2 separate regions of the Homo sapiens genome follow, and region 1 is linked to region 2. Evidence: fine-mapped expression QTL. A gene starts in region 2. The other region holds a variant in brackets. All regions are shown on one strand. Distances are between the middles of the regions. Region 1 holds the start of LOC105376384 (a long non-coding RNA gene). Region 2 holds the start of FBH1 (F-box DNA helicase 1).

Region 1 (8,312 bases), 55 kb before region 2:
CCATTCTAGTGGTGCTGTTCTTAGCTATTCAGGATGAAACACCTCCTCCTCTCCTGAAACCGTCCGTCCCTCATCCTGACTTGCAGCTCACAGAGAAAAGTGACATACCTGAGGCTCTCTGTCAATTACAAGGCTCCTCCTGGCGTGGGAGATGTCTATAGGGAAGACACCAGCGTTTGGGCTCCTCCCAATGACCCTGTCTCCAGCTGTGCTGCACGCACTGACAGGGAGCCGGAAAAGGTGGAGGAGATGCTAAGCCCAGTGAATCCTCTCCATCGAAGGATTCAGGAAGAAGAAAACTCATCTCAGCGCCATTTTACATATATATGCATTTATACTTCCTTGTCTGTTATATCTACACATTATATATGATTTGTATTTTGACATTGTGCCTTGTATAAACAAAATAAAATATATATTTTCAATATTTTAAAATGCATTAAAAGAATCACCAAGGATGGCCGGGCAGGGTGGCTCATGCCTGTAATCCCAGTACTTTGGGAGGCCGAGGCGGGTGGATCACCTGAGGTCAGGAAATTGAGACCAGCCTGGCCAACATGGTGAAACCCCATCTCTACTAAAAACACAAAAATTAGCCTGGCGTGGTGGTGAGCGTCTGTAATCCCAGCTATTTGGGAGGCTGAGGCAGGAGAATCACTTGAACTCTGGGGGTGGAGGTTGCAGTGAGCCGAGATCATACCCCTGCACTCCAGCCTGAGAGACGCAGCGAGACTCCAATTCAAAAAAAAAAAAAAAATCACCAAGGAGAAATGTTCCACACAAAGGAGGAGAAAGAATGGGAATGCAGAATTCCACTGGGGCTCCTCCATCCTGTTGGGGTGCCTCATCACCCACTGACACAGACGGGCTGACCTCCCCTCTCCCTGCTCTCCCCACGCGTGGGCACCTGGCCTGGGCGTGGCCTCCAGGGCCTCTCAGCTAGACTACAAAGCTGTTGAATACAGAGAATGAAGAGCACAGAACTCACAGGGCAGTGGCCAGCAGTGGCCTCAGAAGCTCTGACTGGCTGCTGGGCCTCCTGTTCTGGGCTCTCCAGGCGTCTTTAGGTCCTAACCATATTCCAAACCTAAGCCTCCCATTTTCCGGGATTCTATGAGCCCCTCGTATCTTTCCAATACATTTTTTTTTCTTTATAACAGATTCTGTTTTCATTACTTGTCACTGAAAAGTTCCTAGCTGATATGAAATTCGGTACCAGGAGTGGGTATTGCAAATTATGGAGAAGAGGGGAGATAAGGAGTGTCTGCGGCTGGTTATCTGCCTTAGGGACGAGAGAAAAGAGTGAATGTTCTGATGATATGCAGAGACAGGAATGGAGCGGCCCAGGGAATTCGGTAATTAGTTCGCCAGGAGGTGCCTGGGATGTCATGCCTGCTGCAAGCCTGGCTCTCAGAGACTATGTTGCGTCCATCCTGAAATCGTATGGATATGAGAAATCTGAGCCCATAGTGGGTAGCTGCTTTTAATGTCACTGAAAAACTTAGAGAATAAGAAGTTCAAATCTCTAAAGTCTGAATTCAAGCCACAGGCTGAAACCTAAAGACTGCCTAGAACAACGCGGAATTTCATTCCTTACAGATGCGAGGCCAGGATATCTGAAAACCCATCTTAAGAGTCTGAGCCTTTGGCTGGGCGCCGTGGCTCATGCCTGTAATCCAAACACTTTGGGAGGCCGAGGCAGGTGGATCGCTTGAGTCCAGGAGTTCAAGACCAGCCCAAACAACATGGCGAAACCCCTGTCTCTACAAAAAATACAAAAATTAGCCAGTTGTGGTGGCATGTGCCTGTAGTCCCAGCTACTCAAGAGGCTGAGGTGGGAGAACTGCTTGAGCCCAGGAGGTAGCAGTGAGCCGAGATCATGCCACAGCACTCCAGCCTGGATGACAGAGGAGACACAGTCTCCAAAAAAAAACAACAGTCTAAGCCGTCAAGTTGTTGGAAGAACATTAGCTGAATCCATGGCCCCAGCAGGTTTCCCAGCTGAAGGGAGAGCACTGATTGGAGAAGGGCGAGGTTCCTGTACTGGATTAAAAATGTAGGGGGACATTTGGAGGACTCACAGGATCCCCCACCCTCCCTTGTCCTCAGAAGCAGCCCTCTGTTCTGCCTGACAATGCTGCAACATTGCCTCCTGCTCGAGGGGGGCATCTTGCAAAAGGAAGTCTGTTCTGCTGACAATTTCCTCCCCCTGTCCCATTCTGCATGGGGAGAAAACTTTGCTGAGAATCCCAATCAGACCCTCAGGATCCCAGGAATCAGCCTGTTCCGTGGAAACAAGAGCTCCCCAAGGCTGGGCCGGGCCCTGCTGCAAGCACCTCCACCCCCACGTCCCACCTGCGGCCTCCTCACAGGCCAAGCCCGTAGCCAATGCCCAATGCCCCTGTCCTTCCTTCACAGTCTCCTACATCCAACTCACCTTCCAGAACCAGATCAAGTTTACCTTCTCCAGGAGCCTCTGTTGTTTCAGTTTTGGAGGGTTTTTTTTTTTGAGACAGAGTCTCGCTCTGTCGCTCAGGCTGGAGTGCAGTGGCACGATCTCCACTCACTGCAACCTCCGCCTCCCGAGTTCAAGCGATTCTCCTGCCTCAGCTTCCTGAGTAGCTGGGACTACAGGTGCGTGCCACCATGCCCAGCTAATTTTTATATTTTTGATAGAGACAGGGTTTCGCCATGTTGTCCAGGCTGATCTGGAACTCCTGATCTCAAGTGATCCACCCGCCTTGGCCTCCCATAGTGCTGGGACTACAGGCGTGAGCCACCATGCCCAGCCCCGGAGCCTTGGCTAATGACTCAGTTGTACAAAATCATTTGCCTCTGAGCCTTCATAACACTTATTATCGGTGCTATTCATGTGGCATCTGCAAAATACTATCTTTGTGCAGTGGAAAGAAGATAGAACTTAAAAGCCTGAGTGTCGAGCATCCATTCTACCCTTTGCTGAGCATCCATTCTACCCTTTGCTGGCCCTGTCACTTGGAGACACTACACACACGGACATTGCCTCATCTTTGTAGTGGGGATGACGGCACATGCACTCCCTTCCCAGAGG[C/T]GTGAGGGTCACAGGAGACCCTGGCGTCTGTCTCTCCCCTCGCTAGCCACTAGAGATCCTGACAGTTAAGCCTGGTACTAATCCTCAAGAAGTTTACAGCCTGGTCAAAAAGAGAAGCATACCGGAACAAATATGAAACAAAACCTTACACCACAAGCACACACACTAATGGGACACGAGCCCAGTAAAGGCAGAAATGGCTCCAAGGCCTGGAAGCTTGAGGAATGCAGGATGTGAGTTGGAAGGATGGGTGGAATTTAAATAAACGGGCAGGGAGCATTCTAAATGGTGGGGGGGGGCGGTGGAGGCAAAAACCCAAACAGGAAATTGAGCAACACGTTCAGGAAAGACAGAGCATGGCTGCTGGGCAGCCAGGTCAACCGGACGGCAAGGCAGGGGTTGGCCGGGGAAGCACTGCGCCGCCCCTGCATGCCCTGCATCCTCGGGTCCTGGGAGGGCTGCTCAGTAACTGGAAGGAAAATGAAACTGAAAAAGAGCAAGGGTCCCGTAGGATTGAACACAGTTGGTGAAACTTGGGCCGTCTGCCTCAAGTCCCCGCTTGGCAAAACCACTCCCTCCTGGTGGACGCCCTCACCATGAAGGTTAGTGCTTCTCTTTCTGAAGCTGTGTCTTCATTCCTCTGGGCAGAGAGCCAACAGTCCTAGTTACAGAAGTGTATAACTGGGTGCCATGGCTCACCTAGGGTCCCAGCTACTCAGGAATCTGAGGTGGGAGGATCGCTTGAGCCCAGGAGCATGAGGCTGCAGTGAGCGGTGATCGCGTCACTGCGCTCCAGCCTGGGCGACAGAGTGGGACTCTTGTCTCCAAAATAATTCAAAAATGGGGTGTAATCTTCAAAATCTCCTTGGAGTTAATGCCACCCAGAGGGTACTCAAATTGCTGTCAGTGTCCCGGGGCTGCAGTGGCTGCAGGTGTTTTCCAAGTGTTCTGGGAAGCCCTGGTGGCTGCAGAGGCACCTGAGGGGCCACCACAGGCGGGAGCGGAGAAGGAACTCTGGGTGCCCATCCCCCTCCTGAGTGACCACAGCGGCTGCATTTGTTAACTGGAAGTAAAATTAAGCCTAAAGAATTCCATGGCTAAGAACATCTGAAAGCCTTCCATGCTATTAAATATTTATTTTATTGTTCATCCTGGACTCCATAGGCAGATGCTTTAAAAAAACAAACAAACTGATCTTTTGGAAGAGTTCTAACTCCAACTCTTCACACAGTGGTAGTGGAAATACTATGGGTTTGGGATTGAACTTGAGTTTTCATCCAAGCTCTGCTCTGTGATACTGAGCACAGTGGGCCCAGCCCCGTGACTCTTTAGAGCCTGTTTCTTCATCTGCAAATGGCGGCTGTCATCTGCCTCCCAGGTTTGCTGTGAGGACTGAAGGAATTCACATACACAAAGGCCTGATAGCGTCTACCTGCAGGAGGCTCCTAATAAACGTTGAGTTCACTTCCTTAATGAGGTATATTTACTTACATGGTAATCAGCACCTGCCCCTTCCTTCGCAAATACATTCCCACTTTTTTAGGATTTATTATTTCACCCAGCCGTGTGCATCATGGAAAGCTGACCTCATCCCAAGCTCCAGGAAATAAAACCCTGATGATTTGAAGCCATTCTTCCTTACTATGATTGGCTTAGGAGTGGGCAGGTAGCCCAGTTCTGACCAACAATATGTGAGTCAGCTGGAGAAGCCTGTGGGAAAGGCTTTCTTGCGCCTCTTCCCAGACAAAACCAGGTCCAGCTGCTTGTTCTCATGGTCCAATAACAAGCTGCAGACAGAGTGGGGAAGAAGGGAGTTTATTTCTGGTTACAGGGAGAAGGTCAGAGTAACTCACCAGACTAATTTAAAATTATAAGTTTTTTTTCAGTGCTTATACACATTTAAACCATATGCCTATGTGCAGGAGTACACCTCCAAGCTGAAGTATATTCCTCTGTTTAATCTTTCACTAGGGTCTGGGGTCTGGAAAATTACTTCAGAGCCTTGAAACAATTACTTCATTTTTTTTCTTTCTTATTTTAGAGGGAGGGTCTCACTATGTTGCCCAGGCTGGTCTTGAACTCCTGGGCTCAAGCGACCCTCCTCCCTCAGCCTCCCAAAGTGCTGGGATTGCGGGCGTGAGCCGCTGCTCCTGGCCCAATTACTTAATTTAAAGTGGATCATGGTACAAGGTCCACAAGAACGCCTCCATTATTTTAATTAAACTCTAAGGTCTGGGAGAAAGCCCAGGTGGGGTCTTAATCGACTTGTTTTTACACTCTAGCCTTTGTATTAAGGCACCAGTTTCTCCAATTTTCCTCGTTTAATTTATATATTCCTCAGAGTTATAGTAAGGTGTTGGTGAGGCTGGCTGCTCTGGTTGCTAAGAGAGACCCGGCCTGCCACACTCCTAAGAGACACAGAAGACCAGCCTACCCTTCCCTTGCCTCCCGTGACACTGCCCTGCAGGTGGCTGGCCAAGAGAAGCCTGCCCGGCGACGCTGAGGCACCGAACATGAGCAGGGGAGGAAGGAATGCCTGGGAGCAGCTGAGCCGAGCCCCTGCCACCAGCCTCCTCCGCACGCCCGTGGAATCAGCACTTTCTGCTTCCCGCCCCTGAGAGCCTTGCTCTGGGGCCACTCACAGCCAATTAAGTGGGGATGTTGTAAGAGACTCTAAAATACGTGGAGCTGGCTGAGGACGCGGGACCGACCCCATTATGTGTGTGTGAGGCTGATTAAAGTGTTACCTGTCACCAGGTGTCGCCAATTCTTGGTGAAGCTCTCTCCATGTGACCTCCATGCTACTTATTTTTTATTTTATTGTTCATCCTGGACTCCAAAGGCTGATGCTATTTTTTTTTTTAATGTGATCTTTTGGAAGAGTTCTAACTGCAACTCTTCACATAGTGGTAGTAGAATATACCATGGGTATTAAAAACTAAAGCATTTCTTAATCTGTGGGGTCCAGATTAGGAAGACATGTATTAGGAAAATGATTACTTTAAAAAAAATAAAAAATTCAGGCCAGGCATAGTGGCTCACGCCTGTAATCCCAGCACTTTGGGAGGCTGAGGCAGGTGGATCACCTGAGGTCAGGAGTTCAAGACCAGCCTGGCCGACATGGTGAAACCCCGTCTCTACCAAAAATACAAAAATTAGCTGGTTGTGGTCACATATGCTTGTAATTCCAGCTACTTGGGAGGCTGAGACAGGAGAATCGCTTGAACCCGGGAGGCAGAGGTTGCAGTGAGCGGAGATCTCACCACTGCACTCCAGGCTGGGTGACAGAGTGAGGCTCTGTCTCAAAAAAAAAAAAAAAAAAGAAAAGAAAAAAAAATCAGAACCACTGAATTGTACATTTAAAAAAGGAAGAAAAGAAAAATCCAGGATGTCAGCACTGTGCTGGCCGCTTCCTGGGGCCCTCAGTGAGTTCCTTTAAAAGACAGGCTTAGGGTGACAGAGGCCAGCCTGGAAATGGACAGGAAACGCCAGCCTTTCCGCTGCGGTCCAACTTGGGCTGACGCCCTCATCGCAACAGGAGAGCCCTGCAGGGTTGAGGCAGGAGGGTGACCGGCGTTAGTCTTCATTGTAAGATTGCAGGTCCCTCTACATGGGAGCGAGTTGGGCCAGGGCAGAGGCACAGAGCAACATAGACTACAACTGGTCCAGGAGGCAGAACGGTGGAGGGTCGCGGGCGGGTGGGTGGTGCACCCTGGAGGCCGCGTGGAGCTTCCCAGTGAACTGGCATGAAGAAAAGTATCACAGCCCGATGGTGGTGCTGTTTCTGGAGGTGGGGAAGGGTGCGTGGAGGAGCCAGCCAGGCTCGGAAGGAAATCAGGGGCTGCATGTGGGACATGGCAGGGCTGAGATGTCACGAAGACAGCAAATGGAGTGATCGACTGGCGACCTTGGCGTTTGAGTGGGAAGCCCCCCTCCCTCCACCTAACCTACCTCTCAGCCCACGCCACTAGGGATAAAACACACACAGGTCCCCAGTGAGGAGGATCGCAGGGGACGGCACCTCCTGGGCCCTCATGGAGAACCTGTCCCTTAAGTAGGCCAGGCAGAGGGAGAGCCCCTGCCGGCTAAGGGAGCCCTGCCCCCCACACCAGCCCAGCTGTGCAGAGGTGCCTTGGCCAGGGGCGTGCGTGTAGCACTGTCTTCATGTCTGGGCAAGGAGCTGGAGGAACCCTGCCTGCCTCGGTTCAGACGTCTCTACCGCACCCACTCACTGCAAATGTAGAGTGATCAGCTTCCAGGCTCTCGGTGTACCCCACATTGCTAAAGCCAGGGGTTCAGGGTGACTAGGAAGGACTGAAGGGCAAGGATCAGACTTGAAAAACATGTTAAATTGCTAATAGTCTGATTCTAGGGGTGTCAAAGTCCCTTTGTGATACAGTGAGTTGCTCCCAGACACAGACCAAATGCCACTACAGGACGGAAGCTGGGCAGGCAGCGTGACAGTGACCAGCTTCCCAGGCAGGAAGGTCCCACGGGGGTGCTGCACTGCCTTAAGTTTATTAAGCTGTGTCTGAGTCCACCATGCGACGTCTCTGCCCTCATGCCTGGGCTGCTAAAGGAAAAATACCAGCTAAAAGGATGGTGTTTGATGTCAACTGGGAGGGTGCTGCCCGGCACACCTGTGTTTTCCGTCACCTTCCACTCCATTCCCTTCTATGTCCATCCCAAACGCTAAACCCAGCACTTTGGGAGACTGAGGCAGGTGGACAGCTTGAGCCCAGGAGTTTCAGACCAGCCTGGGCAACAGAGCGACACCTCATCTCTACAAAAAATAAGCAAAAATTAGCCGGGCATGGTGGCATGCACCTGTAGTCCCAGCTACTTGAGGGGCTGAGGTGGGAGGGTCACCTGGGCCTGGAGGTCAAGGCTACAGTGAACTGTCACTGCACCACTGCACTCCAGCCTGAGTGACAGAGTAAGACCCTGTCTCAAAAAAACCAGAAAATTATTGGGTGAGAGCAACCTAAACTTCCTCCCTAACCACTTACAACGTACCCCTTTCTCCTTCATCTCTCCCGTCCCAATCCCTCTCATCTGGCTTCCATCTCTCCTCTCTGAATTTGCTTCCTCTCAACACATAACCCTGCACAAACCTCTCTCGTTTTAAAAGCAAAAACCCCTCCCTAAGGCCACGTCATCCCCTATCCACTTCTTGCCTCTTGCCAGCCTTGCTTTCTGAGAACTAGTCTACGTGGTGTCCGTATCTTCACCTCCCACTGGT
Region 2 (8,328 bases):
GCACTCGTGTATGACAGCCAACAAGGATGGGCTGGGCTTTCCGTTCTATGTTTTTCCTAAAGAAAGAAAGGAATGTTTGAAAAACAAGAGAAAGATCACTACTTATGGTCTAGAATATAATTTTATATATTTGAAAGGCTTTTTCTACAGTCAATTCATTCCACAACTACTTTTACGTATCTGCTATGTCCCAGATTCATTTTAAACTCCATGAGAGCTTTGTCTTATGGTATCCTTGGTGTTAAATGCTATTTTAGACATTAGTGATACAAAAGTGAATAAGCCTACCCATAAGGCAGCTACCAAAACAAACACAAGTTACTAAAGATAAAGTAATATAACAACTACATAAATGCATGCATGAAGTGTTATGATAGTAAAGAAACATAAATAGAGTTAGGCAAGTTGAAAAAGGCTTCACGAAGAGTTGAGTCTTGAAAGAATCATGGGATTCAGTAAGGCGGAAGGAAACAATGTGTGCAAAAATACAGAGGCATTAACAATGCACTAGAGTGGCAGGAAAGCTGGGCTTCATCAAAACAAGAGGTTCCCTGATGAGGAATGACAGGAGATAAGGCTGGAAAAGGAATTTGGAGCCACAGACTACAAAGGTCCTTACACATAATGATAAAGAAATTGGGCTTCAAAAAAAGAAATTGGACTTTATCAGGTAGGGGCTTCAAGGTATCATCCAATTTTGTTTGTTTGTTTGTTTTTTGTTTTCAGACAGAGTCTCACTCTGTCTGTGGTCCAGGCTGGGGTACAATGGCACAGTCTCGGCTCATTGCAACCTCCGCCTCCCAGGTTCAAGTGATTCTCCTGCCTCAGTCTTCCGAGTAGCTGGGACTACAGGTGCACACCGCCACAGCCAGCTAATTTTTTGTATTTTAGTAGAGATAGGATTTCACCGTGTTGCCCAGGCTGGTCTAGAACTCCTGAGCTCAGGCAATACACCTGCCTCGGCCTCCCAAAGTGGTAGGATTACAGGCGTCAGCCACCGCGCCCGGCCTCATCCAATTTTTAAAGCAGGGTCATTACACAATCAAATTTACACTTTAGGACAGTGACTCGGGAGAGAGGATAGAAGGTGGAGAGACATGGAGATTGTCAGGAAAACAACTCAGAAAGCCACCATATCAACCTATGTGAGAATTGGCAAAGGCCTGAGAGTAGCAGACCCTGCAGGTGCATAAGAACATGGCTTTGTTTGACAAGACAGAAAGATAAAAGATAAAGAGCAACAAGGATAACTGGCATTTCTAGTAGAACATTCAAAGAGATGTTAATGTCATTAACCATGTTAAGGAATAAAAGAGAAACAGTGTTTGTGTTTTAATCACTTTTTCCCCCGGAGTGAGAGGGAGGCTGAAAGTCCTAGTTTTAAAAATAATTTCTGGCTTTAAGTTATCTGTGGAATACCATGTTTATGCTCCAGGAGGTCCTCTGAAATCTGAGACTGGTCTTCAAAAGGCATGTGAATGACAGTTACAGATATAAGATTTGAGATGCTTTCTAAAAGTAGGTAATTTCACAGCCAGAAAGGCAAAGATGGAATCCAAATTCAGTTTCCAAATAAAATCAGCCTAGGAGGGATAGAGGAATGAGATAAGCAGCAAAAAGATGATGTCAACAAACCCAAAATTAGAATTCTAAATCTAATACCAATAGTGGTGTCTACACACACTCACAAATCACGAAACCTGTCAAATGATCAGTGTACCAATGGGCATGCTCAACAGCATACCCATGAAAAACAGGAGGAAAAGGAAGGGCAGCCAAGGAGCAAGTCGGTGCCAATGACGACTACATGTGACGTGACTGTAAAGGCCAGACCACAACCTCCAAAAGTCTGCACGAAAGAAATGAGCAGCCCAACCGGAAAACAGCAAGACCCAGGAAACAGCTCCATCCATTAGCTTACTGTTCAGATCCCGCCCCTCTAGACCAAGCTTTTGCCCAGAAAATCACAGGAGCTGCGGGACAGATTCACATACATTATCATTTAGTTATCCAAAGGGGGATACAGAGCAAAGAAGGTTCATAGAGAAGACACAAGAGGCAGAATCGAATGTGCAACACCAATGAAGTAACCAATTATCCTGGGTTCAAATATTCCAACCTGGCTAGGCACGGTGGCTCACGCCTGTAATCCCAGCATTTGGGAGGCCGAGCTGGGTGAATTACTTGAGGCCAGGAGTTTAAAGACCAGCCTGGCCAACATGGTGAAACCCCGTCTCTACTAAAAATACAAAAAAATTAGCCGAGCATGGTGGCACACGCCTGTAATCCCAGCTACTCGGGAGGCTGAGGCAGGAGAATTGCTTGAACCCGGGAGGGGGAGGTTGCAGTGAGCCGAGATCGTGCCACTGCACTCCACCCGGAGCAACAGAGCGAGACTCTGTCTCAAAATATATATATATATTCCAACCTACTGTGAACCCGTGTGTCCCAATTATGTTTAAAAAACAGGGAAACTAGAGACATAATGCAAGAGAAGATAGTCATCTGAAACTGGGAGAGGGGCAGGGGTAAAAGCAAAAAGCATGAAGCTACCAGATGCCTCAACTTCCAATTTGCACTAACTTCAACGGCAGCAGAACACTGCTTGGCACGCCCTACACTTTTGTGCATTTCAAACAACTTTTATGCCTTCCTTTTTTTCTTTTGCTGGAGTGACAAGGCACGACAGAACAATAACCTGAGCAAAGCTGGTACTTGGACTAGTTCTGTCTCCAGAGGCTATCCACATCACTGTTACCTTAACCAAACTCAATCTGCTCATGAGTAAAACGGACTTATCTTCATGGGCCCATTCCAGAAGTCTTTTCATTTATCTCCGCTCATTTTACCACAGCGGCAGACGCTGGCGGACACTCAACACATGCTACCATCCTGCCTTCCAGAAGACTTTATTACCTGTAATTCTGTAAGAAAGTCACTGACTTGGTTAGGCCTCCACTTCCCCACCTGTAAAACCCTACTGATGCCTCATAGGGTTGTCTTCGGACCACAGACTGCAATAAAAAATGTAAACGGCACTCGTTTTTAGGCCTGGCAAATAGGAGCTACTCCCATTCTACTCCCTAAAGGAATCGAAAACATGGAGAGGTTAAGTGACTGGCACCTAATCAGATCGGGTAAGGAACCCAACACCTACTGATCTCTTCCATCACCCACAGCCTGCCCAGCTCTCGCCGTGCCCTCCACCAGCGCCAGGCCTCCCACATCGCCTTAGGCTTCCCATGCTCAGAGGAGGGGCAGAGAAGCTACCGATGACACAGGGGCAGAGGGCAGCGAAAAATGACTTGCCCAAGGTCAAAACGTCAGAGTAGACGGGAAAGCCTGGCCTCCTAGCAGCCGAGGCCACGTCCCCGCGCTTGCCCCTTCAGCCCCGAGGACCCACACGCTGCGCCTTCCTGGCCTCGGGGGGCAGCGCGGGGGCCGCTCCCGACCGAGTTCAGTGAGCGCCCTGGCCTCCCCCGCGCACCCCCGCCGCGCCCTCCACCTGCCCACGGCCCGGACGGCCGAGCCCCCACGCCCGCGCTTGCCCGAGCCCAGCCTCGCGCCCCCGGGGCCCCCGCTGCCCCACCCCGGGCCCGGACCCCCCGCGCAGGACCCCGGAGGTTAAGTTTTCCACACGGCGGAGCCCCTCCCACACTCCCTGCCACGTCTGCGGCCTCACGCACTGTGGCGCTCCGGACCCGGACCCCGCTGCCGCCGCCGCCGGGCCCGCGCCGCCGGCCGCTCAGCCCAGCGTCCCCCGGCAGCGAGCTCCTCCTCTGGCCGGGACCTGGAGCCCGAGACGCCCGCCGACTTCCTCCGCGAGCTCCGCCCCGCCGCAGCCCCGGGAAGCGCCCGCCGCCGGAGCCGGACTGACGGCCCCCGCGACCAATCGGGACGCGAGACCGGAGGGGGCGTGCTGACGGACGGCCACTAACGCCAATCGAAATGCGCAATCGGTGGGGGCGCGGCCACAGCTACCGGGCCACGCCCCATCCGCGCTTCCGCTCGGGCCGGGGCGGAGCGGGAAACTTTCCCAGAGTTCCTTCGAGCTCCCCGAGTCCCCGCGGAGCAGCGGCGGTCGAGGGGCGGGGACGGGGGCGGAGCCCAGGAACGCCGGCCCCCAGGGGCTGGAGGCTGGGGCGGCCCTGAGGACGCGTGCGGGGCAGGTCACGCTTGGGCCTGGCTGCCTCAGGAGCCACCCTGCACGGCGCCGGGCGAGGCTGTGCGCGCCCTCCCGGACCCTCCACTTTGGGGCTTTGCGGTGTAGCGGCGCGCCCCACTCCCTTACGTGTTCAGTCCCGAATCACGTACGGGCCGCTGCAGCTCCAGGACGGCGGACGCCAGCGCTCTCGGATCCCCAGGCCCCTCCGTGCTCATCCCGGACCGCTCCGTCCCTGAGGAAAAACCGCCCCGTGCCCGGAACCGCGGCTTCTCCCACGCGGGGCAGGCCGGGGCTGTGAGGGGGCAGCCCGCCTGCGGACTAGGCCGGGGGTTTGAGGAGGCGGCTCTGCCGGGGACAAAGCCGGGGGCGTGAGGGGCGGTTCTGCCGGGTTCGGGGCGCGCGGGGCAGGTTGCGTGAAGAGGCGGAAAGTCCCACTCGCCCTCGGCTTCTCCCTGCCCGGCCGCCGGTGTCCCGCCCGCCGCCTCCCCGCGCAGCCCGGCCCGACCCGCGGCGATGGCCCAGCCCGGGGACCCGCGGCGCCTCTGCAGGCTGGTGCAGGAGGGCCGGCTGCGCGCCCTGAAGGAGGAGCTGCAGGCGGCCGGGGGCTGCCCGGGGCCGGCCGGGGATACCCTCCTGCACTGCGCCGCGCGCCACGGGCATCGGGACGTGCTGGCCTATCTGGCCGAGGCCTGGGGCATGGACATCGAGGCCACCAACCGAGACTACAAGCGGCCTCTGCACGAGGCGGCCTCCATGGGCCACCGAGACTGCGTGCGCTACCTGCTGGGCCGGGGGGCAGCGGTCGACTGCCTGAAGAAGGCCGACTGGTAGGTGTGGAGCGGAAAGACACCCCGCCTCCCCTCTACTCGCAGAGTCGTAGCGAGTTCCCTGTGCTTCTCCGTCCCCTTGGACACCGTAGCTGTTCTCAGCTCCTAGTTCTCACCCCAGGCCTGCTCAGCGGCAGGGACCTCCTGCCCAACTTTCCCTTATAACGCAGATGACCTGCAGAGTCCCTCGTTCCTGCCCTTGTGGGTTAACTGGTCGGGGCAGTCACCTCCCTTTCTAGAGCACGGAATAGTGTAGAATATAACCAAAGAGAATGTTACCAAACAATGAAGTGTGTGCACTATACAGATAGCCTCCGGATGCGATGTTCTGGGGACATTTAGCTAAGTTACTTCTGCACCAATGCATTGTTTCAAGTGGCATTGCTCCAATCAATATCCAGAATTCCTGAGTTATACACGCGCTCGTGTGTGTAGAGCACAGTGCAGTTGTATCACATACGTGCAGCCTTGCATAACCACCACAGTCAGAGATACTCTGCTCCACCATCACACAAGCCAATTGCATTTCGTTTGTTAGATTGACACTGATTTTAGTACTCACTAGGTCAGGTTCGTTAGAGGGCGTGAACATCTTTAGGAACATAGGGAAGTACATCTTCCCCACTGGGGCAGGGGAATAGACTTCGTTATGTGTTGAGGGTTGTCTGTGGGTTTTCTTAGCTCTGCTCCAATTCACTGCTATCCTGTGAACTAGCTTATAAGCTGCTTTGTCTCCCAGGCACCCTCTCCTCTAGGTACACGTTCGTTACAATCATTTTCCCCTTATTATTTCTCCCAGGGTCCTCACAGAAGGCACAGAGGTTGCCGGTCAAAGCTGTTTTCCTGCCTGCCAGACCCCTGAATCCTCTAGGTTTTCCATCTGTGCCAAGGATGTGTGTGTTTTGAAGACCTGGCCCCTGGCTTCTAATGTCTCAGCTGCCTCCATCTGACAGCTTCTCCTGGTTGGCCTTAGGACTCCTCTGATGATGGCCTGCACAAGGAAGAACCTGGGGGTGATCCAGGAGCTGGTGGAACATGGCGCCAATCCACTCCTGAAGAACAAAGATGGCTGGAACAGTTTCCACATTGCCAGTCGAGAAGGCGACCCTCTGATCCTCCAGTACCTGCTCACTGTTTGCCCAGGTGCCTGGAAGACAGAGAGCAAAATTAGAAGGACTCCTCTGCATACTGCAGGTACAGCCTACAGCTCTGCAGGTGAGCAGTACACACATGTGGCTGCTTCACCCAGCACTGCCCAACCGCATCTTGTTCAGGTCACCTTCAGGGGAAAGGAGGATTTTGGAAAACAGAAGGCAGAGAATAAGAACATCTGGGGGGGAGGGGGTGGGGGCGGGGGCGCGGGTGCAGTGGCTCACGCCTGTAATCCCAGCACTTTGGGAGGCCGGAGGCGGGTGGATCACCTGAGGTCAGGCGTTCAAGACCAGCCTGGCCAACATGGTGAAACGCCGTCTCTACTAAAAATACAAAAAATTAGCCGGGCGTGGTGGCGGCTGCTTGTAATCCCAGCTACTGGGGAGCTCCAGAGTCTGAGGCAGGAGAATGGCTTGAACCCAGGAGGCAGAGGTTGTACTAAGCCAAGATTGCACTACATTACACTACAGCCTGGGCAACAAGAGCAAAACTCCATCTCAAAAAAAAAAAAAAAGCATCTAGGGGCCTTTTGGCATATAATCAATTTCTAAAGTTAACATAACTTGGCTAGCATGCTGTGGTATTAATTTATTTTTCGTGTGTATCTGTGTTATCCTCCCTAGATTATTTGCCCATGAGCTGGTTCTGTAGCACATAGTCTTTGACCTTGGGTAAGGAAATTAGTCTCTCTCTTGAGCAAGTTTCCTCATCAACCAAATAATAATGTCAGTGATGGTATGTCTCAGGGTTGTTGTAGAGTTTAAAGAGCATGATGTATGTAAATCCTTTAGACAATGCTTGGCACATAGCACAAAATAACTGGTTAGTGCTATTTTCTTTATCATGTTTACATTCTTACTCTTAAAGGCAGGAGGGAAATATATATCCTCATAGCCTTAGTAACACCTACCATAGTGCTATACTTTTAAATAAATATAGATACTCATAATTAAATACCTTGGCCCAATAACATCTAATGTAAATTTGGGTTACAGTTTTTATTATTTGGAGTAGTGACTCTTAACTCTGAATTATCTATTTGTAGATTATTTTAGTAAAAAGTTTCAATTTGCTCATTTGTTTGAAGAAAGTAAAAAGAAAACAATTAGTAAAAAGTAAAATTACTGTAATTTCAGAAGTTAGATATTAAGGAGCTCAAGAGTCTAGATTAAGAAATTCAGAATATAACTTGTAGCTTTCTAGGTAGTACATTGATTAGGATAGAGGGCTTTTAGTTTCTCTAAAAATCATCACTTGTGATGTTTTATAGTGTTGCTTTTTGTCTTTTGTTTTTTTTTGAGACAGAGTCTTGCTCTGTCACCCAGGCTGGAATACAGTGGCACGATCTCGGCTCACTGCAACCTCTGCCTCGCAGGTTCAAGCAATTCACGTGCCTCAGTCTCCCGAGAAGCTGGGATTACTGGCGCATGCCACCATGCCCAGCTAATTTTCATATTTTTAGTAGAGATGGGGTTTCCCCTTGTTGGCCAGGCTGGTCTTGAACTCCTGACCTGAAGTGATCCACCCACCTTGGCCTCCCAAAGTGCTGGGATTACAGGCATGAGCCACAGTTGGCAATTAGGGACCAAGGAATCATTTCTAAAACTTCTTAAGTAAGTAGAAAACTTTTTTTTAGCTCATGAATTATTTGACCAGTTTCTCCCCTGGAGAAACAATCAGCACTCCATCATTCACCCAAAATAGTGGAAGACAAATAGTCATAACCTTTGAGTATAGTTACTTTTAGTAGGGGAATTAAATCCAGGCTATTTTGCCATGGATTACTGTTACAATATTTTGCATTTCCTGGGCAAAAATGGACTAGTCTTGGGGATCCACAGCACAGAAGTGTAACTTTAGGATTGAAAGTTTCCCATGAAAGTGCACGTGAAGATAAGATAATCAAGTGTTGGCTGTGTACATATAAAGTGAAAACATTATTGTTTACCGCTTTATCCAGTTAAATATTTATTCGTGTAGGGCGGTAACAGTGTACCCAATTTAATGACTCCTTCTTGTAAGCTATCACTAATAGAACGGGGCAGAGAGCAAAGCCAGGAGGCAGGAAGCATTTTGTGTGTGCACTAAAAAGCTCTAATTCTCAGCTTTCTTTCTCCTCCCAGCAATGCATGGCCATTTGGAGGCAGTCAAGGTGCTTCTTAAGAGGTAAGAACAATACAGCAA

Evidence for each region.
Region 1: its variant is fine-mapped to the expression of FBH1 in whole blood (TOPMed, PIP above 0.99). The same link has a PIP of 0.9 or more in neutrophils.

The regions. Positions count from the first base shown.
Region 1 is chr10:5,941,015-5,949,326 of GRCh38, reverse strand. LOC105376384 (a long non-coding RNA gene) reads left to right here and starts at 3,413. Exons shown (of 2, transcript NR_188180.1): 1 at 3,413-3,672. It also overlaps a transcript of IL15RA not described here. RefSeq lists an enhancer at 3,654-4,212. The variant C/T (reference allele first, on the strand shown) is at 3,071.
Region 2 is chr10:5,885,705-5,894,032 of GRCh38, reverse strand. It overlaps FBH1 (F-box DNA helicase 1), which reads right to left and starts at 3,790. Exons shown (of 21, transcript NM_178150.3): 1 at 3,687-3,790. The coding sequence starts at 3,687. It overlaps ANKRD16 (ankyrin repeat domain 16), which reads left to right and starts at 4,140. Exons shown (of 8, transcript NM_019046.3): 1 at 4,140-4,992; 2 at 5,966-6,186; 3 at 8,268-8,310. The coding sequence starts at 4,679. RefSeq lists silencers at 3,358-3,407, 3,598-4,317, 4,458-4,567, 4,578-4,857.